3 separate regions of the Homo sapiens genome follow, and all the other regions are linked to region 1. Evidence: fine-mapped expression QTL. A gene starts in region 1. Each other region holds a variant in brackets. All regions are shown on one strand. Distances are from middle to middle. Region 1 holds the start of IL6 (interleukin 6). Region 2 overlaps LOC401312 (a long non-coding RNA gene). Region 3 overlaps STEAP1B-AS1 (STEAP1B antisense RNA 1).

What was found.
Region 2: its variant is fine-mapped to the expression of IL6 in whole blood (INTERVAL, PIP above 0.99).
Region 3: its variant is fine-mapped to the expression of IL6 in fibroblasts (GTEx, PIP 0.94).

Annotation. Positions count from the first base shown.
Region 1 is chr7:22,723,156-22,731,338 of GRCh38, forward strand. It overlaps IL6 (interleukin 6), which reads left to right and starts at 4,045. Exons shown (of 5, transcript NM_000600.5): 1 at 4,045-4,126; 2 at 4,289-4,479; 3 at 5,538-5,651; 4 at 6,359-6,505. The coding sequence starts at 4,108. It overlaps IL6-AS1 (IL6 antisense RNA 1), which reads right to left and starts at 4,465. Exons shown (of 2, transcript NR_131935.1): 1 at 4,413-4,465; 2 at 2,240-3,550. RefSeq lists a silencer at 3,460-3,509 and an enhancer at 3,495-4,694.
Region 2 is chr7:22,657,193-22,665,375 of GRCh38, forward strand. It overlaps LOC401312 (a long non-coding RNA gene), which reads right to left. Exons shown (of 5, transcript NR_122075.1): 1 at 8,153-8,183; 2 at 5,890-6,724. Among named protein-coding and RNA genes, the nearest start is that of IL6, 66 kb to the right of the region's middle. RefSeq lists enhancers at 7,181-7,788, 7,789-8,183. The variant G/A (reference allele first, on the strand shown) is at 4,825.
Region 3 is chr7:22,568,294-22,576,476 of GRCh38, forward strand. STEAP1B-AS1 (STEAP1B antisense RNA 1) reads left to right here. Exons shown (of 4, transcript NR_038393.1): 3 at 3,482-3,720; 4 at 3,792-5,705. Among named protein-coding and RNA genes, the nearest start is that of STEAP1B-AS1, 9.0 kb to the left of the region's middle. The variant T/C (reference allele first, on the strand shown) is at 4,387.

The sequences.
Region 1 (8,183 bases):
GGCCAGACTAAGAATTCACCAGACCAAGGAGCTACAACAGGACATCAGAGCTGAGGCTGCAAAGCCAGGACTGAGACCAGACCAGGCAGGAAACTGTCAAGAGCTTTGGTCACCAGGCCTGGCTGCCCTCCAACATCAGCTGGCTCTTTCTAAATTGACACACCACATGTCCCTAAAATTCTCTCTTCAAGTAATACCACCATCAAAGCAGGACATTTCCCAGAGCCTTAGAGCCTGGTGTCTGCTCAGTGGGACTCAACCCCAGAAGAAGCTGTTAAATCACCCACTGTTTCAGTTTACAAACTTCTTACGACTTGGCAACAAGTGAAACTACATTCTGGCAGCAACTGCAAGTTCCCTAGTACCCAGGACTTCCCGTTTTTTCTTGCTGTACTCCCTCCTGTTAAATCACAGACTCATCCATCTCCAACCCCCAGAATATAGAGAAAGAGCACAACACTACATCTTAACTCCTGAGACGTGGAGAACACTTCTCCTCCTGAGAGCTTAAGTACCAAATGGAAGCTACTTTTCCCCCTTGGTCTCAAATGTATTACTAGATTCTGAACTGGACTCCACCATCACGTAAGAAAGCAGTCATGGGCAGTAATTCTGGGAGATCCAGATAGGACATGCCAGCCCCACACTGGTGGCATAGGAAGCCAAGTTGCTGCTTCCTCCCTGTGCACTCCCATTTGTCTGGCCTCTCTTGATCTCAGCTGGCGCTCACTTCACATCAGCTATGATGCAATCCAGCAACTAAAGTATTAGTTAATAAATGCTGACAGCACAGCCTTTTCTGGTCACGTATTCATACTAAAATACGGGGGAGAGTTGGGGGGAGAGGGGGATATATGGGAAATCTCTGTACCTTCCTCTCCATTTTGCTATGACCTAAAGCTGCCCTTTAAAAAATACAAGGGGCTGGGCACAGTGGTTCACGCCTGTAAACCCAGCACTTTGGGAGGCCGAGGCGCGTGGATCACCTGAGGTCAGGAGTTCAAGACCCGCCTGGCCAACATGGCAAAACCCCGTTTCTACTAAAAATACAAAAAGTAGCTGGGCGTGGTCGCATGCATCTGTAGTCCCAGCTACTCAGGAGGCTGAGGCAAGAGAATTGCTTGAACCTGGGAGGCGGCGGTTGAAGTGAGCCAAGATCATGCCATTGCCCTCCAGCCTGGGCAACAGAGCAAGACTCCTTCTCAAGAGAAAAAACAAAACAAAACAAGAAAAAACAAAGAATGAGCTCTCCACGCGAAAAATCCATTGAGATGCAAAGGAAGGAAGCTATCATTGTGGAATTGCACATGTCAGTTACATTAACGTTTTTGGAGCAAGGTAGAGCTCATCTCTCCCACAAGCAAATTCCAGCCCAAAGCATTGATACTAATAAAGTGCCATGCTGCGATGTGCAGGGGGCAGACAGTGTCTCCAAGCTCCCTACACACATGCCTTCCCACAGTTTGCCCTTTCTTGACCCCAGAAGCATCAGGCCCCTTCACCCTCGAGGGCCACTATCAGGAGTTTGAATTAATGGCAATCACCATGCACAGGGAAGGCTGTGGAATTCTGACATAAAAACACTTAGTGGAGGGCTTGGAAAAAGTCTAGTAGGAGCAAGACGCAAGCTGGACTAATTATCTAAAACAAGAGACCTGGTTTGGGGATCTTAATGTTCTCAAAAAAGAAAATTATTATTATTTTTCATTTTGCACTTTGTGCCATAAAACATTTTCAACAAAACATAGAATCTCATTTCTTTTGAGGGAAAATGATTGGGAGACCAGCTCATTGCTGGCACAGAGGCCTGGTTCATTCATAATTCCTTCATAGGCAAGACACCAGGTGAACCGATATAGCCGAGCTGGAAGAGCTCTCCAAGGCAGAGACTCTGAGCCAAGGAATGTTCAAAGAGCTAGCATGTATTGTGGGATTACTATGCGCCAGGAATTTTTTACACTGCATCACGTTCCATCTTCACAACAGCCCTAGAAAGGAAGAACTATTATTACCCCCGTTTTATAGGTGAATAAACAAGGGCACAGGTCCTTGATGTAACAGCCAGGATCAAACAGCTGGGAAGACGAGAAAACCTTTCCCAGGCTAGGATAACAGAGGATTTGGTTGAAAATACAGGCAATTAGGTGCTACCTCTGGGAAAAGGGGCCAGGAGAGGAAGGAGACACTTTTCCCTGCATGCCCTGATGTCCTATTTGAACATTTTATCATGAACACGAACTTCCTATTTAAAAAACACTTTTTATTGAAAAGATAAATCTGTGTGTTGTATTGTGTCACTCAGTTCAAGTACTTGAAATTTATTGAATTGTATTTTCTAAAAAATAGATAGTTGAGTAAAAGCAAGCTCACATTACATAGACGGATCACAGTGCACGGCTGCGGAGCTGGGAGCAGTGGCTTCGTTTCATGCAGGAAAGAGAACTTGGTTCAGGAGTGTCTACGTTGCTTAAGACAGGAGAGCACTAAAAATGAAACCATCCAGCCATCCTCCCCCATTTTCATTTTCACACCAAAGAATCCCACCGCGGCAGAGGACCACCGTCTCTGTTTAGACAATCGGTGAAGAATGGATGACCTCACTTTCCCCAACAGGCGGGTCCTGAAATGTTATGCACGAAACAAAACTTGAGTAAATGCCCAACAGAGGTCACTGTTTTATCGATCTTGAAGAGATCTCTTCTTAGCAAAGCAAAGAAACCGATTGTGAAGGTAACACCATGTTTGGTAAATAAGTGTTTTGGTGTTGTGCAAGGGTCTGGTTTCAGCCTGAAGCCATCTCAGAGCTGTCTGGGTCTCTGGAGACTGGAGGGACAACCTAGTCTAGAGCCCATTTGCATGAGACCAAGGATCCTCCTGCAAGAGACACCATCCTGAGGGAAGAGGGCTTCTGAACCAGCTTGACCCAATAAGAAATTCTTGGGTGCCGACGCGGAAGCAGATTCAGAGCCTAGAGCCGTGCCTGCGTCCGTAGTTTCCTTCTAGCTTCTTTTGATTTCAAATCAAGACTTACAGGGAGAGGGAGCGATAAACACAAACTCTGCAAGATGCCACAAGGTCCTCCTTTGACATCCCCAACAAAGAGGTGAGTAGTATTCTCCCCCTTTCTGCCCTGAACCAAGTGGGCTTCAGTAATTTCAGGGCTCCAGGAGACCTGGGGCCCATGCAGGTGCCCCAGTGAAACAGTGGTGAAGAGACTCAGTGGCAATGGGGAGAGCACTGGCAGCACAAGGCAAACCTCTGGCACAGAGAGCAAAGTCCTCACTGGGAGGATTCCCAAGGGGTCACTTGGGAGAGGGCAGGGCAGCAGCCAACCTCCTCTAAGTGGGCTGAAGCAGGTGAAGAAAGTGGCAGAAGCCACGCGGTGGCAAAAAGGAGTCACACACTCCACCTGGAGACGCCTTGAAGTAACTGCACGAAATTTGAGGATGGCCAGGCAGTTCTACAACAGCCGCTCACAGGGAGAGCCAGAACACAGAAGAACTCAGATGACTGGTAGTATTACCTTCTTCATAATCCCAGGCTTGGGGGGCTGCGATGGAGTCAGAGGAAACTCAGTTCAGAACATCTTTGGTTTTTACAAATACAAATTAACTGGAACGCTAAATTCTAGCCTGTTAATCTGGTCACTGAAAAAAAATTTTTTTTTTTTCAAAAAACATAGCTTTAGCTTATTTTTTTTCTCTTTGTAAAACTTCGTGCATGACTTCAGCTTTACTCTTTGTCAAGACATGCCAAAGTGCTGAGTCACTAATAAAAGAAAAAAAGAAAGTAAAGGAAGAGTGGTTCTGCTTCTTAGCGCTAGCCTCAATGACGACCTAAGCTGCACTTTTCCCCCTAGTTGTGTCTTGCCATGCTAAAGGACGTCACATTGCACAATCTTAATAAGGTTTCCAATCAGCCCCACCCGCTCTGGCCCCACCCTCACCCTCCAACAAAGATTTATCAAATGTGGGATTTTCCCATGAGTCTCAATATTAGAGTCTCAACCCCCAATAAATATAGGACTGGAGATGTCTGAGGCTCATTCTGCCCTCGAGCCCACCGGGAACGAAAGAGAAGCTCTATCTCCCCTCCAGGAGCCCAGCTATGAACTCCTTCTCCACAAGTAAGTGCAGGAAATCCTTAGCCCTGGAACTGCCAGCGGCGGTCGAGCCCTGTGTGAGGGAGGGGTGTGTGGCCCAGGGAGGGCTGGCGGGCGGCCAGCAGCAGAGGCAGGCTCCCAGCTGTGCTGTCAGCTCACCCCTGCGCTCGCTCCCCTCCGGCACAGGCGCCTTCGGTCCAGTTGCCTTCTCCCTGGGGCTGCTCCTGGTGTTGCCTGCTGCCTTCCCTGCCCCAGTACCCCCAGGAGAAGATTCCAAAGATGTAGCCGCCCCACACAGACAGCCACTCACCTCTTCAGAACGAATTGACAAACAAATTCGGTACATCCTCGACGGCATCTCAGCCCTGAGAAAGGAGGTGGGTAGGCTTGGCGATGGGGTTGAAGGGCCCGGTGCGCATGCGTTCCCCTTGCCCCTGCGTGTGGCCGGGGGCTGCCTGCATTAGGAGGTCTTTGCTGGGTTCTAGAGCACTGTAGATTTGAGGCCAACGGGGCCGACTAGACTGACTTCTGTATTTATCCTTTGCTGGTGTCAGGAAGTTCCTTTCCTTTCTGGAAAATGCAGAATGGGTCTGAAATCCATGCCCACCTTTGGCATGAGCTGAGGGTTATTGCTTCTCAGGGCTTCCTTTTCCCTTTCCAAAAAATTAGGTCTGTGAAGCTCCTTTTTGTCCCCCGGGCTTTGGAAGGACTAGAAAAGTGCCACCTGAAAGGCATGTTCAGCTTCTCAGAGCAGTTGCAGTACTTTTTGGTTATGTAAACTCAATGGCTAGGATTCCTCAAAGCCATTCCAGCTAAGATTCATACCTCAGAGCCCACCAAAGTGGCAAATCATAAATAGGTTAAAGCATCTCCCCACTTTCAATGCAAGGTATTTTGGTCCTGTTTGGTAGAAAGAAAAGAACACAGGAGGGGAGATTGGGAGCCCACACTCGAATTCTGGTTCTGCCAAACCAGCCTTGTGATCTTGGGTAAATTCCCTACCACCTCTGGACTCCATCAGTAAAATTGGGCGTGGACTAGGTGATCTCATAGATCCTTCCTGCTGGAACATTCTATGGCTTGAATTATATTCTCCTAATTATTGTCAAAATTGCTGTTATTAAGTATCTACTGTGTGCCAGGCACTTTAAATAAATATTGTGTCTAATCTTCAAAACAAATTTGCAAGGAAGGTTTTTGGAGATAAGGAAACTGAGACTCAGGATTAAGTAACACACCTAAAGTCACAGGTGAGCTTGGAACTGAACCCAAGTGTGCCCCCACTCCACTGGAATTTGCTTGCCAGGATGCCAATGAGTTGTAGCTTCATTTTTCTTAGAGACTTTCCTGGCTGTGGTTGAACAATGAAAAGGCCCTCTAGTGGTGTTTGTTTTAGGGACACTTAGGTGATAACAATTCTGGTATTCTTTCCCAGACATGTAACAAGAGTAACATGTGTGAAAGCAGCAAAGAGGCACTGGCAGAAAACAACCTGAACCTTCCAAAGATGGCTGAAAAAGATGGATGCTTCCAATCTGGATTCAATGAGGTACCAACTTGTCGCACTCACTTTTCACTATTCCTTAGGCAAAACTTCTCCCTCTTGCATGCAGTGCCTGTATACATATAGATCCAGGCAGCAACAAAAAGTGGGTAAATGTAAAGAATGTTATGTAAATTTCATGAGGAGGCCAACTTCAAGCTTTTTTAAAGGCAGTTTATTCTTGGACAGGTATGGCCAGAGATGGTGCCACTGTGGTGAGATTTTAACAACTGTCAAATGTTTAAAACTCCCACAGGTTTAATTAGTTCATCCTGGGAAAGGTACTCTCAGGGCCTTTTCCCTCTCTGGCTGCCCCTGGCAGGGTCCAGGTCTGCCCTCCCTCCCTGCCCAGCTCATTCTCCACAGTGAGATAACCTGCACTGTCTTCTGATTATTTTATAAAAGGAGGTTCCAGCCCAGCATTAACAAGGGCAAGAGTGCAGGAAGAACATCAAGGGGGACAATCAGAGAAGGATCCCCATTGCCACATTCTAGCATCTGTTGGGCTTTGGATAAAACTAATTACATGGGGCCTCTGATTGTCCAGTTATTTAAAATGGTGCTGTCCAATGTCCCAAAACATGCTGCCTAAGAGGTACTTGAAGTTCTCTAGAGGAGCAGAGGGAAAAGATGTCGAACTGTGGCAATTTTAACTTTTCAAATTGATTCTATCTCCTGGCGATAACCAATTTTCCCACCATCTTTCCTCTTAGGAGACTTGCCTGGTGAAAATCATCACTGGTCTTTTGGAGTTTGAGGTATACCTAGAGTACCTCCAGAACAGATTTGAGAGTAGTGAGGAACAAGCCAGAGCTGTGCAGATGAGTACAAAAGTCCTGATCCAGTTCCTGCAGAAAAAGGTGGGTGTGTCCTCATTCCCTCAACTTGGTGTGGGGGAAGACAGGCTCAAAGACAGTGTCCTGGACAACTCAGGGATGCAATGCCACTTCCAAAAGAGAAGGCTACACGTAAACAAAAGAGTCTGAGAAATAGTTTCTGATTGTTATTGTTAAATCTTTTTTTGTTTGTTTGGTTGGTTGGCTCTCTTCTGCAAAGGACATCAATAACTGTATTTTAAACTATATATTAACTGAGGTGGATTTTAACATCAATTTTTAATAGTGCAAGAGATTTAAAACCAAAGGCGGGGGGGCGGGCAGAAAAAAGTGCATCCAACTCCAGCCAGTGATCCACAGAAACAAAGACCAAGGAGCACAAAATGATTTTAAGATTTTAGTCATTGCCAAGTGACATTCTTCTCACTGTGGTTGTTTCAATTCTTTTTCCTACCTTTTACCAGAGAGTTAGTTCAGAGAAATGGTCAGAGACTCAAGGGTGGAAAGAGGTACCAAAGGCTTTGGCCACCAGTAGCTGGCTATTCAGACAGCAGGGAGTAGACTTGCTGGCTAGCATGTGGAGGAGCCAAAGCTCAATAAGAAGGGGCCTAGAATGAAACCCTTGGTGCTGATCCTGCCTCTGCCATTTCTACTTAAGCCAGGGTTTCTCATATGTTAACATGCATGGGAATTCCCTGGGCATCTTCTTGTGGTGTGGAGTCTGACTTAGCAAGCCTCGGGTGGGTTTGAGGGTCAAATTTCTACCAGGCTTATATCCCTGGTGATGCTGCAGAATTCCAGGACCACACTTGGAGGTTTAAGGCCTTCCACAAGTTACTTATCCCATATGGTGGGTCTATGGAAAGGTGTTTCCCAGTCCTCTTTACACCACCGGATCAGTGGTCTTTCAACAGATCCTAAAGGGATGGTGAGAGGGAAACTGGAGAAAAGTATCAGATTTAGAGGCCACTGAAGAACCCATATTAAAATGCCTTTAAGTATGGGCTCTTCATTCATATACTAAATATGAACTATGTGCCAGGCATTATTTCATATGACAGAATACAAACAAATAAGATAGTGATGCTGGTCAGGCTTGGTGGCTCATGCCTGTATTCCCTAAACTTTGGGAGCCTAAGGTGAGAACTCCTTGAACTCCTAAGGCCAGGAGTTCAAGACCAGCCTGGATAACATAGCAAGACCCCATCTCTACAAAAAACCAAAACCAAACAAACAAAAATGATAGTGGTGCTTCCCTCAGGATGCTTGTGGTCTAATGGGAGACAGAACAGCAAAGGGATGATTAGAAGTTGGTTGCTGTGAGCCAGGCACAGTGCTGATATAATCCCAGCGCTATGGGAGGCTGAGGTGGGTGGATCATTTGAGGCCAGGAGTTTAAGACCAGCCTGGTCAACATGGTAAAACCCCATCTCTACTTAAAAATACAAAAAAGTTAGCCAGGCATGGTGGCATACACCTGTAACCCAGCTACTCAGGAGGCTGAGGCACATGAATCACTTGAACCCAGGAGGCAGAGGTTGCTGTGCACCACTGCACTCCAGCCTGGGTGACAGAACGAGACCTTGACTCAAAAAAAAAAAAAAGAAGTTTGTTGCTATGGAAGGGTCCTACTCAGAGCAGGCACCCCAGTTAATCTCATTCACCCCACATTTCACATTTGAACATCATCCCATAGCCCAGA
Region 2 (8,183 bases), 66 kb before region 1:
GCAGTCCCCAGTTACCTCTCAGCATGCTTATCTCCATCTCAGAGCCCATTTCTTAGTGAGTATGTCTAGCAAAAGTTGTTGCAGGAATGGTCTAAAGAAGCAACATTAAAATGGGCTACAATGAGGAACTCAGTCCTAGTGATAAGATGAAGCACTGAGATACACTGATTTGTAACCACAGTGAATTTTTTTAAATTTGCACTAGGATGAACTAGGGTGGGAAACAGTAGAAGGGAATGCACTGTCAGATGCAATGTATTAAGTCGTTGAGCTATGGGTTGGATAATAATTATAAGGGCTATGGAATTTGATGGCTGTTGTCAGGGAGAGAGATGTATTGAGTAAAAACAGTGAAAGACTGAGTGTGATCAATCACTATTTAAAATTAAATGTGACTACCAGAGGCCTTATTGGAAACACATAGAGAAACTCTCATATCCTGCAGCCAGAGGGCAGAAAACGCTGAGTATCAGACCCAGGACTTCATTATAAAAATAGCAGAATCACAGAGGAAATTGAATTCTCAACCCAGAAGGTATTCCACATCAGAGTCTGGTCTCTAATTATGAAGGGGTGAGACACTGAGACTTGGAATGGGGAAATTTATGTTGATACACTCATAAATCTCAAATCCCCAGATTCTCCACCCCACCCCCAAACTTCCTGAGCCTAAAGAATTGGCTCACTCCTTTCTAATAAATTCTATCACTACCTCTTACCTGAAGACAGGTAAGCCCTCTTCTAAAAAAACACTTGCCTGTGCTGGGCAGTCTTTAAAATAGCCCCAATGGTCCCTGCCTTCTGACAGTCCCACCCTTATGTAGTCCTCTTCTACTTTGAATAGAGATGACTTTTGTAACCAATAGGATATTTCAGAAACAACAGAGTGTGACTTCTGAAGCTAGGCCACAAAAGGAATTGTGGCTTCCTTCTTGCCATTTTCGGATTATCCACTCTAGGGGAAGCTACCTCCTATGTTATGAGTATACTCAAACAGCATGACGGAACGATCCATGTGTCAACAAACTGAGGGTTGCTGCCAATAGCCAGTGAGTAACTGAGACTTCATGCCAAAAGCCATGTTATGAACCATCTTGGAAGTAGGACCTCCATCCCCAGTCAAGCCTTCAAATGGCCACAGCCCTAGCCAACATTTTGACTGAAATCCCATGGGAGACATTGAGCCAGAAATCCTGAGATAATAAATTTTGTTATTTTAAGTTGCTAGATTTTGGGGGTAATTTGTTATACAGCAATAGATAAAATAATACATCCTCTCAGAATCTACTCCTACCTCCCATCTTGGCCATCAGACCACTAACTAGAATTAAATCACAACATAACCAATTAAGGAAGTTCTGGGTCTTCCAAGGAAAGAAAAAAATCATATTCCCAAATAAACTGCAGTACTTAGCTAGCATATGCCAGCAGGAACTAGAATAATATGTTTGGACAGGATTTAATGCCCCAGAAGACAGCACTAAGACACATGTAGGATGGATCAGGTAAGTTTGGAGAAAACAGTAAAGAAGAAATGCCATAACTGCCACAGCAAACAGTGGAAGAAAAGATCAAAAGGCTCAGAAAAGTAGGCATGCTAGAGCAGACAGACTAAACAAGATGAGAAAATACACCAGATGGCTTTGTTCCATGATAGGGGCGAAAAGATATTCTGATTATCAAAGTGACAAGGAATACCCTGGTGAGAGGGCCACCAATGTCACTGAGAATTTCAGTAGAAAACATCCTCTACTGAAATTCTCAGTAGAATTCTCAGTGGCCATAGAACCAGGCTGATGGTAGTAGTTGTTATTACAGAGCTGAACTCATGGATAGCAATAGTGGATCCTAAAAAGGATCCTAAAATCCTTTTCAGGAAGAATCCTAAAAAGAGCCCAGGCAGCCACCTTTAACCACTAGAAGCAAGGTGGTCACAACTGTCATAATCCATGGAGACAGTTAATAGAATACAGGATTTCTAGGGCAAGTCATTAAGAGTAATGTTCAATATATAGACCCCCACTTCCCCCCACCCCCCCAAAAAAATCAAGGATTCGTGATTAAGAGACTAAGGGCAGCCCAATGAAAAGTCATTATCCCTGGCCCAGTTTCTGGATCTGAGCCAGTGTTCTGACCCAGAATCTACTGACTAAAGGAGGGGCAAGTTCTCTAGGAGGGAGGATCCTGTAACACCATGGTAAGTATATATAGTAATGATTATCTCAATCTTTCCCTAAAAGAATCTATGATCCTTTACTCAAGTAACTGTACACTTGGAAAGGGGGAAATCCCAAGCATTTTGAGAATGGCTGGACACAGAACACAAGTTTGCACTGAAACCCAGGGATCCAAAGTAACATCATGCTCCACAACCACCCCCACCATTAGAGTGGAGGCTTAAGGGGGCCAACTAATAAACGGAGTTCTGGCTCAACTCTGGCTCACAGTGGATACACTGGTTCCCTGGACTCACTTAGAAATTTTTCCTGTTCCTGTATTCATAACTAGAATCAACATACTTGGTTGTTGGCAGAGCCTCCACATATCACAGTGGGAAAGCTAAGTAGAAGCCACTGAAATTGCCTTTCCCACCCAGCCATGATAGTATAATAAATCAAAAACAGTATCATATCCCGAGGGGAACAACAGATCTAAGGATGCAGGGTGGTGATCCCCTTCACATTCCTACTTAATTCACGAGTCTGACCTTTACCAAAGCCATGTGGATCCTGGAAGATGACCGTGGACCAGCAAACTCAACTAAGCACTATCCACAACCGCAAATGCTTTGCCAGATATGATATCTTGACTACAGCAGATTAGTGTTGCCTCTAGTACCTAGTTTGCAGCCATGGATCTGACAAATGCATTCTTTTCCGTCTCTATCAGAAAGATAGATCGTAAACAGTTCTCCTTCACTTGGGACAGACAGTAGTATACATTGTCTTACAGTCTTGCCCCTGGGCTGTGTTAACTCCTCACCCTCCATCAAAATATAGTCAAAAGAAAGCTGGGTCACCTGCTATCCTGCAAAACATCCTATCAGTCCATACTACTTATGACATTATGTTACTGGGACCCAGGGAGAAAGAAGTAGCAAGTATGCTGGGGGCCTTAATAAGTCACATGCCCTTCAGATGATGGGAGATATACTCTACAAAGATTCAGTGGCTTGCACCATTGTTGGTTGCTTGCTTTCACCAGAGGACACAATAAGTTTCCCATTAAATGACAAAGTGTGGCTGCCACCCAGTTGCTTCACATTCCTCATACCAAGAGAAGAGTAGACAAGAAAAAGAGTCAGCCTCCTGGCATGAGTAATTGATTCTGATCCCCAGGAAGTGAGAGGGCTGCTTTGGGAGCAGGGAAAACTATGTTTGGCACCCAGGTAAACTGCTTGGGTGTCTCTTAATGGAAAATAGGTAAATACAGCTGTCACAGCCTAGTTTTATACCTGCCAGGTAAACCACTTGGACCAGATGGGACGGGGAAACTAGAATAGGTAGTAAAGGAGGAAGACAATGAGCATCACTTGTAGCCACCAGAGCAGCGGCTATGGTGAGAGCACTAGGTCATTCCATTCACCTTCCTCTTGTATGTTTCCCCAGGAAAAGAAGACCACCAGAATCTAGAAGAGCTGCTGTCAGAACTTATGATAGGAAGCAAGTGACTCTGAGGTGCAAAGAGTGGACTGCGGTGAACCTGCAGTGTATCACCCAGGTTTATCGCCCCCTTCAGGACTCAAGCACTCATTTCCCCACCTGCAGGGAATGTTGGTGGCTAACAGCTATCAGCTCTTGCTCTTCAGGCATTGCCCTTTGCTGAACAGTTTCTTTGCCCAAGATCACATCCCCATCCCAGGGACATCTGATATCCAATGATTAACTGATGTAGGGCTATAAGACCAACCTCAATTCAAAATAACCTTGAAGGGTTATTGCAGCTACACAGCCACTGATGGGATTAGTGAAGTTTTCTTACAACTGCATCAGAATTCTCCTTCTCCCTGTGCCCAGTAATGCTATCTACACTTTCCCAAAAGTACCGATCTCAAAAGGACTCCTCAGTAACGTTCCTGCATGCAAATCTCCATCTCATAATCTGTGTCCCAAGGAACCCAACCTGCAATGCATGCATTGTCTCATTTGATCCTCTCCACAAGATCAGAACTGCTATTATCCCTATTTTACAGTGGAAATTCAAGCCCCAAGAGCTTCAGTAAACTTGCAAACTCCCTGATTTTAGAGTCTATGCTCTTAACCAACCTGGATCAGCAAACTGTAATCCCTATGCTAGAATTAGGCAAATATTTCCCTGGATGAGACGCTCTAGGTGCAGCCAGCTGAGCACTAACTAGTCAGATGTTTCTTTTCATCATGTGTTCCCTGGGACCTACCTGGAAATTTCAAAGGAAGGTAAGAGAGAACTTCTGCAACCCAGCTCCTCTCTCCAGGCTCTTTAAGCCTCCTCACCTTATTGCTCTGGGTTCCAGGGGTCTTCTGTGAGCTCCCAATCAAGTTTAGCATTCTCTCCTGTGCTTGTGATGTTGTGCAGAGGAGTCCTCCTGACATGATCAGCTGCCACCCCAGCCACCTGGGTCCCAGATCTCAAGATAACTGGAGTGACCCAAATGCAGATCTTGGTCTTCTGAATCCAGTTGTTTAATAAGTGATTTGTGGCTGGACAGTTACATAACTGTAGAGATCACCCAGGTTTGTATGGGGTCTCACTTCCCTCTCCACCCTCAGATTGTCTGTCCCTCCCTAGAGTAAAGCTACGTCACATAGTCTCCCCCAAGTTCCAATGTGTTAGTGCCAGATATAC[G/A]GAATGCTTGTTGGGAATGTGGCTTAAACTGTCTCTACTGTGACAGAAGGACAGACTGTCATCAACTGCTGCAGGTAACCTAGAAACCCTTTGTCTTTCACAACAACTTTTTGTTATTTTATTCTCTGAGCCATCTCTTAGACAATGTCTGGATTCCCATCAACTTCTGCACATAAACAATATTTATAAGTAACCAGGCAGAGCAATGGAGTGTGTTTAGTCATTTTGCATAAGAACTTCCCTTGCACAAGTTCTATATATAACTCAGTTGGCAACCCCCTTTTCTACCCATTGAGGCACCAGTGCAGAACATGTTCTTAGGAGCACTCACAGCCCCTCCACTGTGGGTTTCTTGAGGTAATAGAAAGAAAATTCCAGGTGTTACTGTTCCCCAACCCCTTAAATACACAGCCCCCAGTGTCTCCTACACTTAGCCCCCATTACTCCCAATCATGGTTCCTCTGTTTATGAAGGTCTGCCTCCTTCCTCTGCCCCACATGTCAACCTCATTTCTGTCCTTGTTCTCTTCCCATGGCACTTTCCAGCCTTCTCCCCACAGCAGGATCTCCTTTGACTCTCTTCAATAATCTGCATACACTGTGTGCTTCCCCAAGATACCATCCCTGAAGAGCCCCATTTCACTCTGACTATTCACAAAGCCTCATTAGCATGTTCTTGTACAGTACTCACTAGCTTTGAATGGAACCTCATGCCCTTTTAGAGTCAGAATACTAAGTTCAGACACTGCCACTTACAGGAATGTGATCTGGGGGAAGTTCCTTAACTTCTCCAAGCTTCACTGTTTTCACTTGTAAAATGGCAATAGTAAAGCCTACCCAATGTGCTTGCAGAGAGGACGAATGAGGTAACGCAGTAAAAAGTAACCTTTAAATTTTAAAGTTCTATATGAATGTGAGTTATCATTATTGTGTTGTTTCTCCCCTCTGAGCTCTCTGAGGTCACATCTTTTACTTCCTTTCTCTCCCTGGGTCACACACAGTGACAGTAACACTGTAAGCTAATATTAGATGCAGAATTAAGAATGAATAAAAGAAAACCACTCACCAATCAGAATTAGGCAAAATCCTAACCATATTAAATCTATTGTAGACTGTTCCACAGAGTCAATCTAGAAACTGCTCTATAGGGAAACATCCTGAAAAGACATGAAAATTCATTTACAGTACATGCTTGCAAATTTATGCTGAGAGGAAAAGGAATAGCATCAAAACACATCCACTCTTCCTTCTAACACAGGGCCAATGTTGCTAACAAGAGACAGGCTGGCCTCGGGAACACTTGTTAGCTTTTCCCAAAAAGGCTGCTACCTTTAAATGACCAGTTATCTCCCTTAAAGAATCATTTTTTATCCCATAATATCAGTTCCTCTTCAACATCTGATGCAACTCTTAGTGTTTTCCATTGCTTTCTAGCTGTGTCAGATTTCCCTAGAAGACAGAAATGAAAGTGATGACTAAGAAGATTGCACTGAAATTTCAAATATTTGGCCTACACATTGATTCCCCCACCCACCCCTCCTATTCCGGTCTTCTTGCCCTCCACGGGGGGAAATCACTATTTCTGTGCAGTGTAAAACCTTCAGCTTTCACCATTACATGTAGACTTACAATCTTTAAACACAAATTTAGTTCATTTAGTTGGAACCACACAAAGTAGAACCTACTTGGAGATTTCAGATTTTTTTTTCTATTTCCCTGACGATCTTCTAAAGATATAGAAAGTTACATGTCAGAAGTATACCAATCGTGATCAGTTTCCCCTGTCACTTAGAAGCGACAAAGCATTTACTTATCTCCTCCACAGTGGCCCATTTTCTATATCGCAATCTTGCCTCCAAGTCAAATTGTTCAAAGCACCATGTCTGGAATGAAGAAGGGCACTGGGAAAAAAGAAAAATAGCAAGATGGAGGAAATACCAATCATATGCAGTATTTCTTCAGGCCATCTCAACATACTTCACATTTCCTTCACAGGAACAAGATAAGATTTCTCAACTGGGTATTTCTTTTAAACGTCCAAACTTGGCAGTACTTTAATGGATATCTAAGATAATTAAATGATTAGGGTGACGTATTAATATAGGTCATCGGACGGGCACGGTGGATCACGTCTGTAATCCCAGCATTTTGGGAGGCCGAGGCGGGTGGATCACTTAAGGTCAGGGGTTCGAGACCAGCATGGCCAGCACGGTGAAACTCCATCTCTACTAAAAATACAAAAAAAAAATTAGCCGGGCGTGGTGGGGCACGCCTGCAGTGCCAGCTACCTGGGAGGCCGAGGCAGGAGAATGGCGTGAACCTGAGAGGCAGAGCTTGCAGTGTGCCGAGATCGTGCCATTGCACTCTAGCCTGGGTGACAGAGCAAGACTCCGTTTCAAAAAAAAAAAAAAAAAAAAAAAAAGGATATTTTCCAGTTTCCAGTACACCCTGTTCCAGATATGCTCACTCAAGTCAAAATTACCGAGTGTAGTGGACATTTTAGCCCTACTCTCAAGCAAAAGGCAGATTTTCATAGGTCCATTTCTACCATTATTTCACTAGGTCTCCCAAGCTTCCAAAAGGTAGATCATGTGCTCGCTTCAGCATCCCGTATACTAAAATTGCAACAAAACAGAGAACACTAGCAATTTTAAAAAATAAAAATAAAGCAGATCATTAGACGACCAAAACTGTCATGGAGGGATCTTTCACATGGACAAGTGGTACCCCCGGTGTAGTTCGGAGCATCCCACAGGAACTCTACACCACCTCAATGTAGTGATTGAAAGCCAGGCACTGGAAGGACAAAGTTGAGCAAAACCACCCCGAAACATAAGAAGTTCCTGGCCCTAGGCTGACTCCCTAGCAGGTCATTTTACACCAGTCACGGAAAGACAGAGGGGCAGGAGTTGAGGGGGAAGTGGGGGCCCAGGGAAGGAGTTATCTGATCAAGTCTTAAAGGATAAACAGGAAACTGGACAGCAAAAGGGGAAAAAAGTAGCCAATCCGGGCAAAGACAGCACCATCAACAAAGAATCAGGACGAACAAGAGAATGCCCTGTGCAAACATCAGCAAACGTCTGCCCCGTGTGTGTTTGTGTGCGGCCGCCAGGTGTGGCGTCATGGCTGCCATTTTGTTCTTCTCTGGTTGGCTCCTTGGGCGCCTACAGCCTGTGAAGCACTGCCTGACGCCTACCGCTCGCCCACCTCCCCGCCTCCTCCGGGCGCTGCAGCCTCCAGGGATCCCTCCGCCCCCCACCCCCGGGAAACCTGGAAGTGGCCACCAGGCCCGGTGGTCCGAGGTGAGCTAAGGAAGGAGCTTTACCCACCTCGTGGCCCGCAGTGATGAGGCGGCCCGAG
Region 3 (8,183 bases), 150 kb before region 1:
TAAGAGACTGTCCTTCACCAATATATGTTCTTGGCCCCTTTGCTGCTGACCCTTTTTCAAACACAACAAAAGCCATCTCGTCCATGTGTCCATGAGTTCAATTGTTGTAGAAACAGCCCCATATATTTGAAATGAAGCTGAAAAAGGGTATAAGAAATTCATTTCTGCCAGCTTGAATATCCAGCTCATCACACTTAGGCAACTCTCCTAACCTAGCTTGCCAAGAGCCACATGCCCACTTTGAGGACAAGAGACCCTACCAGAACCCTGGAGATAGGCATATTTGGTCGCTGATTCTCCTTGGCCCTCATGACCATGAACTGACCTCAATTCTCTCCAATTTCACTGCCTTGCAAACATTTTGTTGTTGTTTCATTTACTTCCCACACTGGTGTGCATACAGTATTCAAACGGATAGTTTGAATCTTTTTTTGAGACAGAGTCTCATTCTGTCGCCCATACTGAAGTGCAGTGGTGTGATCACGGCTCACTGCAGGATTGACCTCCCCCAGCTCAGGTATCCTCCCATCTCACCTCCCCAAGGAGCTGGGACTACAAGTATGCCACCACACCCAGAAAATTGCTTTCGTTTTTGTTTTTGATAGAAGAGGGGTCTTGCTGTGTTTCCCCAGCTGGTCTTGAGCTCCTGAGCTCAAGCCATCCACCCGCCTTGACCTCCCAAAGTACTAGGATTACAGGCATGAGCCACCGCTCCTGGCCCATCACAAATCTCTTACTCTCTCTGTGCCTTAGTTTCTTCATCTGTAAAATCAAGATTGTGATAATAGTACCCAGCTCACAGGCTTGTGGTGAAGATTGATTGAGTTGATAGTACAAAGTGCTTAAAACAGTGGAGGGCATACAGTAAGTGCTCAGTAAGTGTTAGCTATTATTAGTAGTATTGTTATTATCATTACTATTAATGTTAATTAATATTAATGTTAAACACAGTGTCTGACTTGCATTTTTATTCGCAGCACCTAGTACAGTACCTGGGATATAGAAAGTGCTCAGGAAAAGTCTGCTGGATGGATGAATAAATAAATAAATGAGGATGAGCAATTTCAATGCAGGGGCTGTATATCTTCGTCTCTGTTTAGTACAAACCTAGTCCCTAATAATTCTTTAAAAATGCATGTTGAATTTTGAATCAATGGCACACAAGAAAGTTTCTGCATTTATCTTGTACAGTACAGAAAGCTTTGGAGGAACACACACACAAAAAAAATTAGTGATAGCATTGAAGTAGTGGGGGTGGTACCTAAGAAACTCTGGGAGATGGAGAGACCAAGATGTGACTTTGGGAACAATTTTTAACTTTTCTGGGTTTCTATGTTCTCCTCTATCAAATGAGGCCGAGTCTCTGGATCCTAAGAGGGCTAAACCAGACAATGCTTGCAAAGTGCACAGTTCTAGGCCTGGCACCTGCGAACTGCTCATTCAGTAAGTGTTGGCTTTAAAACCATGTGTCAAGTACAGCTGACACATGTCCCTCTGCCCATCAGGCTGCAGGGCTTGACCAGAAGGTGAGGGGCCCTGATTTATGGGACAATAGCCAACTACCCAGGAACCCATCTTTCTACCCCATCTTTCTAAATATCTTAACCAGAGGCTTCTCTTTCTTGTGCCCTCTTACCCATGATCCAGGGACAATCTAAATAAGTTCCTGCTACTATAACCAGAACTTCTCTAATTGTCATGTGCAAGGTATTTCTCCAAAACCTTTCAAAGAAGTACAGACTCGTCGTACCCCTTCAGCAGACTTTAGAATGAAACTGGGCATTTCCCACTGGTTGCCTTGCCCGCAACTTCCTCCCTTGGACCCTCTCCAAGTCTACGCAGCCGACGGTGTCTTAGAAAGGAGACTCAGAGCGTGATGAATCGAGCACTCAGTCACAGATTATATTCATCTTCATGCTTGCCCAATATAAACCAAACTTTCGGCTTAGTTGGTTTAAATCCAGAAAATACCCAGCAGTTTATATCTTATCTCTGACCATTCTATGAGGTCTGTATGATTAATTTTTTTATATCTTTTTTTTTTTTTAGACAAAATATTACTCTGTCACCCAGACTGGAGTCCAGTGGTGTGATCTCAGCTCACTGCAACCTCCGCCCCCTCAAGTCCAAGCCACTCTCATGCCTCAGTCTCCTGAGTAGCTGGGATTACAGGCACCCACCACCACGTCTGGCTAATTTTTGTATTTTTAGTAGAGACAGGGTTTTGCCATCTTGGCCAGCCTGGTCTCGAACTCCTGGCCTCAAGTGATCTGTCCACCTCAGCCTCCCAAAGTGCTGGGATTACAGATGTGAGCCACCACACCTGGCCTAAAATGTCATATATTTTGAACTGACTGACTTCTCCAAAAACTTATGGTTATTAGTTGAGAGAGAAAACTTGAGAGAAAGTTTCCCTGCACTTGGATGAGAGGAGAGCGGAACAGCCTGCATCTCTGGTGCTGGGGAGTATCAAATAAGGGGAATTGGGAGAAGGATGGAGGCAACAGCGTAGCTCTTTGCCTTTCAAAATTAAAATGGGATGCTGCTTTATATTACAAATCTAAGGAATTAGAAGAGCAGCAAACTAAGCAACTAAGTTTGTTCTCCTTGCATAAACTTTAAAAAGCCAGCTTAAAAGTTCTCAAGCTTAAAATTCGAAAAATGAAAACAAATGCATGGCATGACAGAGGGGATAATTCCTGCACTTTTGGAAATGTTCTCATGTTTTCTTCATTTCATCCTATGAATGAAAATGCCGTCAAAGGGGAATAAGGCTATTCGCAGAGTGCTCATCACCACGGTAACCACTGAGCATCTGTACCCTTTAGTATCTTCATTTTGATTATAATAAATGAGTTACGAATCTATATCTGGGGCCCTAGTTATATATTTGCCATATGTTCACACCACATGCACACACACACACACACACACACACACACACACACACTCACATATATGGTGACTAAGACTAAGAGTCAGCCTAAAAGAAGAATGATTTGGAGCGGGAGCTCTTGGAGGGAATGGTAGGAAAATAACAGGGATCCACTCAGTCTCATTTTCTACTAAATTTCAATAATGAGAAGTGTGCTCAGCAAATGTTTGTTGACTATATGAATAAATGAAATGGTGCATTTAACCAGAATTGCATATTTAAATATGGTGGTAGTGTGTACAATATTAGAGGAAGGAAATGCAGGCAACAAGGAGAAGGCTTCTGCGATGATCCATGACACTCTGATATTGCCATTCTGTGCAAAGTTGCTCACATTTTGACATTCATGATCATTTTTAATTCCCCAAAACAAGCAACTGAACTTTCAACTTCCTTTTATTACCATAAAATAGATGCAATAGATACCCTCACCCCATTCCTCACCCACCCCCCAATTAGCTTTACCTGGTGCCTAATCCACAGCCCATCCCAGACTCACCCTATCCCTCCTTAGACTTCTCTGTATCTTTTACCCGATCCTTCCAGGTGTCCAAACAGTGTCATCCGGTGTCCTGACATGCGGCCCCAATGGACTGATCCAGGGTGGAAAGGAAGAGTGAGAAGAAATCAGACAGAAGAATTCAGGAGATGTGGCAACAGAGTGGATGTAGCAGAAGGGACATAGAGAGTGCCTAAAGATGAGTCTTTGGTCAGCATGTGATGAAAAGAATGAAGACACTGGGGAAGTGGGGAGCAGAAGCGGATGTGGGCCCAGGAGGAAGAAGGTAGGTTTGGACTGGGGCATGCTGAGGTCAGTAGCAACATCAAAGTCCTGAGCACCCTCATATTGTTGCAGATTCCAGAGAGCAGAGATGGCAAAAAGATGCATGGAAGAGAGACACAGCAGGGTCGGGTTCTGGCCTCAGGAGCCAAGGGGGAAGTGCCTGAGGAGACCCCCAAATGAGGCCTGTGTCAATGAGGTCTTTAGGGGACTGGTTTCCATGTATGCCAGGCCATACTCCCTGGATTCCCAGCATTGAGAAGACCAAACACTTCTACACATTTATTACTGAAGCCCCCTGCAAGCTGAAGGCGGAGGAAGTGGCCAATCTCCTAAGCCGTGTGTGGCTGAGGCAGTTGTCAGAGCTGTGATGAGGGAAATGCTCATTATTCTTCTATCCCTCACTTGGCCAAATAAAGAACTTCTTAGAATTCTTCCCCTGTGACAAAACGGGGCTGTGATTTGGAAAGCCTCAGGCAAGTTTGCTAGGGCCGCGGTAACCAAGCACCACAGACTGGGTGGCTTCAAAACTGGACGGCTTCAACAGAAAGTTATTGTTGCTCAGTTCTGGAAGCCAGAAGTCCAAAATCAAGGTACTTGCAGGGTCAGTTCGATCTGAGGGCTGCGAGGGAAGGATCTGTTGTAGACCTCTCTCCTAGGTTTGCAGGCA[T/C]TGGTCCTGATGTTCACAGGGCATCCTTCCTGTGCCTTCACATCATCTTCTCTCTGAATGTATCTCTGGGTCCAAATTTCCCTATTTTAAAATAAGGAAATCAGTCCTATTGGGTTAGCACCCCGCCCCTCACTTTAACTTGATTACCTCTGTAAAGACCCTACCTCCAAATAAGATCACATTCTGCGTACTGAGGGCTAGGACCTCAACATCTGAATTCAGGGTGGGTGGATGCACAATTCATTCCATAACATTAAGAAGGAAGGGATAAGTGCCCAAGGAATCACATGCTCGCTTGGGGAGAGTTCCAAGCGTGCAGAGCTGGTGGTCATAGCCTAGCCTCAGGCCTTCGGAAATCCCCTGAATCTGGTTTTCCCAGTTCTCATAATCTCATTTCACCAAAATACGGCATCTCAATACATTCCATGCATTTCTGGTGACAAGCTCATTCTGGTGCACGCTAAGCAATGTGCTAACTACGTCTTAACTAGGGTGGTTTAACTGGTTTGGTTAACATAGATCTCTGAGTCATTTCACGCATTCCTTAAGCCTAAACAAATCTCATCCAGGTGTTTAAGACATTGCACAATATTAGACCATCTGAAGCTCCATCTCCTTGGGGCAATGATGATGATGGTGATGAAAGTGGCTGGTGACTGTTCTCAGTCTCATCGCCATAATGGAACCCTACGTTGTGTTCCTCCACACTGGTGTGAGGGACACTACTAAGTGCGGCAGAGTTTGCACTCAGGATAGAGAAATATGGACTCACGCACAGATTCCAGCTGAGTCCCTCCGATGTGCTAGGTACTATGTCCAGCCCCCCAGGATTCACCTGTAAGCAGGACAGTCTTTTGGATGACAGAGGGAATTCTCATATATCCACAGGCAGATGGAATTTACAAGTGGAAAGACCTAGAAGTTCAGAGACAGGGGGACTGAACTTTTTGCTTTCAGTCAGAATCTTTGCTTACGGTTGTGCAAATGCTTGCATTGGTGGGTTTCCATGCCATATAACGTGCTACATATTTTTACGTTACCCTTGCACATAAGCATACTGTTGGGAGGGAAAATGAAGAGGGTGGAGGTGGTAACAAACTCAAGCTAAGGAAATGGAATTTGGATGGGTACAAAGTCCAGAGAATTAGCTTGAGGAAAATGAACCAGGATTCACACAGGAGTTTTCAAACATCTCAATATCAGGACCCCTTTACCCTCTTAAAACTTACTTCGTGAGGACCTTAAAGAGCTTTTGTTTGTGTGACTTATATGTATTAATATTTACTATATTAGAAATTAAAAGTAAGGAATGGTTGTAATATGTGTTCATTCATTTAAAATAACTATAACAAACTCTTTATTTTTTAACATTAATAATGGTTTTCATGAAAAGTAACTATATTTCCCCCAACCCCCACAAAATGTAATGATAAGATTGGCATTGTGTTATATTTTTAGAAATTTATTTAATATCTGGTCTTAGAGAAGATGGCTAAAATCTCCTATCTACTTCTGTATTCAATCTGTTACTTACGTTGCTTTGGCTGAAGTATAAAAAGAAAATCCAGTCTTACACAGTAAAGTCAAGTCTTAGATAGGTATACAGTTGGAAAAGGCAGGATTTGCGATCTCTCAGAAAGAACCTAGGGACCCCCAGCAGTCCCCTAGCCATATTTTGAGAATTGTTGGACTAATAGTGGTTTTATAATCTTGTTATATCCTGATTGGATTTCTCTTTCTAACTATACCATTAAACGGAAACTCAAATTTCAGAATTTTAATCCATAATATGAAATTTTAGATATGGATTAGTGTCATGTAGATATATGCAAAGTCTTAACTCTTTCTACCTCCACATTTAAGAAGTCAGTACAGTGGCATGACTTTGGCTCACTGCAACCTCTGCCTCCCGGGTTCAAGCGATTCTTGTGCATCAGCCATCCGAGTAGCTGGGATTACAGGCACGCACCACCACACCTGGCTAATATTTGTATTTTGAGTAGAGACAGGGTTTCGCCATGTTGGCCAGGCTGATCTTGAACTCCTGGCCTCAAGTGATCTGCCTGCCTCAGCCTCCCAGTGCCCGCAATGGGATTGCAGGCATGAGCCACTGCACCAGGACTAAAAGTCACTATCTTTTAGTTTGTTTGCGGTGAAAAAAAATAGTTTAAAAAATAAATTAGAAACAGACACTATTACCCAGTATCTATATTTAATCACAGAAATATTTCTTAATGCTTCCAACTCTGAAGTCCCAGACATTCTTAACTATGTACTGTAGTTATAAATAATATGAAGGCTGGAGCACAGTGGCTCACGCCAGTAATCCCAGCACTTTAGGAGGCCATGACAGGCAGATTGCTTGAGCCAAGGAGTTCGAGACCAGCCTGGGCAACATAGTGAGACCCCTCTCCCGCCTCATCTCTACAGTAAATAAATTAGTCAAGTGTGGTGGCAATGTGTCTGTAGTCCCAGCTACTCAGGAGGCTGAGGTGGGAGGATCCCTTGAGCCCAGGAGGTCAAGGCTGAAGTGAGCTGTAATTGCACCACTGCATTCCAGCTTGGTCGACACAGCGACAGCGTTTTTCAAAAAGAAAGAAAATATGTATCCCTGCACCATAGGAAATAGGAAGTATTGTGTGACTTTTTCTTGGTCTTTCGAGGAACTATGTCATATGAATCATGATGACTGCTGAAAATGCACAGGAAGATAAAGAAAAGTGACTTGTTGCTCAACTGTTTCAAGCCCAACTCTGGGTACCAAACTGTGGCTCCCTAAACTAACCCAGAGGGCTTGACTCTGACAAAGCTCTAGGTGCAGCCATAAGACTGACCCTTAAAAATCTGACCTGAGATAGCGACAGTCTCACCCCGAAAGCAGACCACAAATTGGGTTTATAATCTAGTGGTTTGCAGGATATGACATACTACCTAATGAACAGGGTGACCGAGTTTGGTGTGATTAGTCCGCAGATGCCAGAAAGGCTGAAGAAGCCTGCCATGAAACTAAGTTTCTGGCCAGTGGTTCCAGCCTAATCTCAGACCCTGGGAACAGAGAAGCACCCCTTCATCTCCTCCTGCAGGTAGAGATTCACCACATTCACCTTTGTAAGCTCCCTTTCCAACAACCTTGGGCACCTTTTGCAACCTATAAAGGTCCTCTCCTTGAATGCCTGCTGCTTTTCCCTGTGCTTGTCCTATCTCACTCAGATCTTTGATTCCCCTGACGACATTCCCCACCCCCTCCCCACCCCATCTCAGCTGTCCTTCTCAGCCTCGCTATCTACTCTCATTCCTCACCTGAGTGTTCCAGCAAGATCACTGTTCTATAAAGGCTCAACCTTCAAACTTGCAATACACATTTCCTGGGTCCTGCTTTGTCTCTATCCTCTGTGCTCAGCCCTGGTGTAGGATCAGTGTTCCTGTCACTCCATCTCCTTTTCCAGGGATATTTGCATCTTTAGTAGTAGTCTTCATTGGTGGTCCTTCAGTGGAGTGTCACAAAGAGAAGGGAAAACACTCAGGTACTATGAGGGGAAAGGTTGGGGACTGTTGAGAGATCACAAGGACACCTCTCACTCCTACCCCCAAAGCTACCTTAACCTATTCCTGTCAAGACAGAAGGTTGGCCGGGTGCAGTGGCTCACACCTGTAATCCCGGCACTTTGGGAGGCCAAGGCAGGTGGATCACCTGAGGTCCAAAGTTTGAGACCAGCCTGGCCAACATGGTGAAACCCCATCTCTACTGAAGATACAAAAAATTAGCCAGGCATGGTGGCAAGTGCCTGTAATCCCAG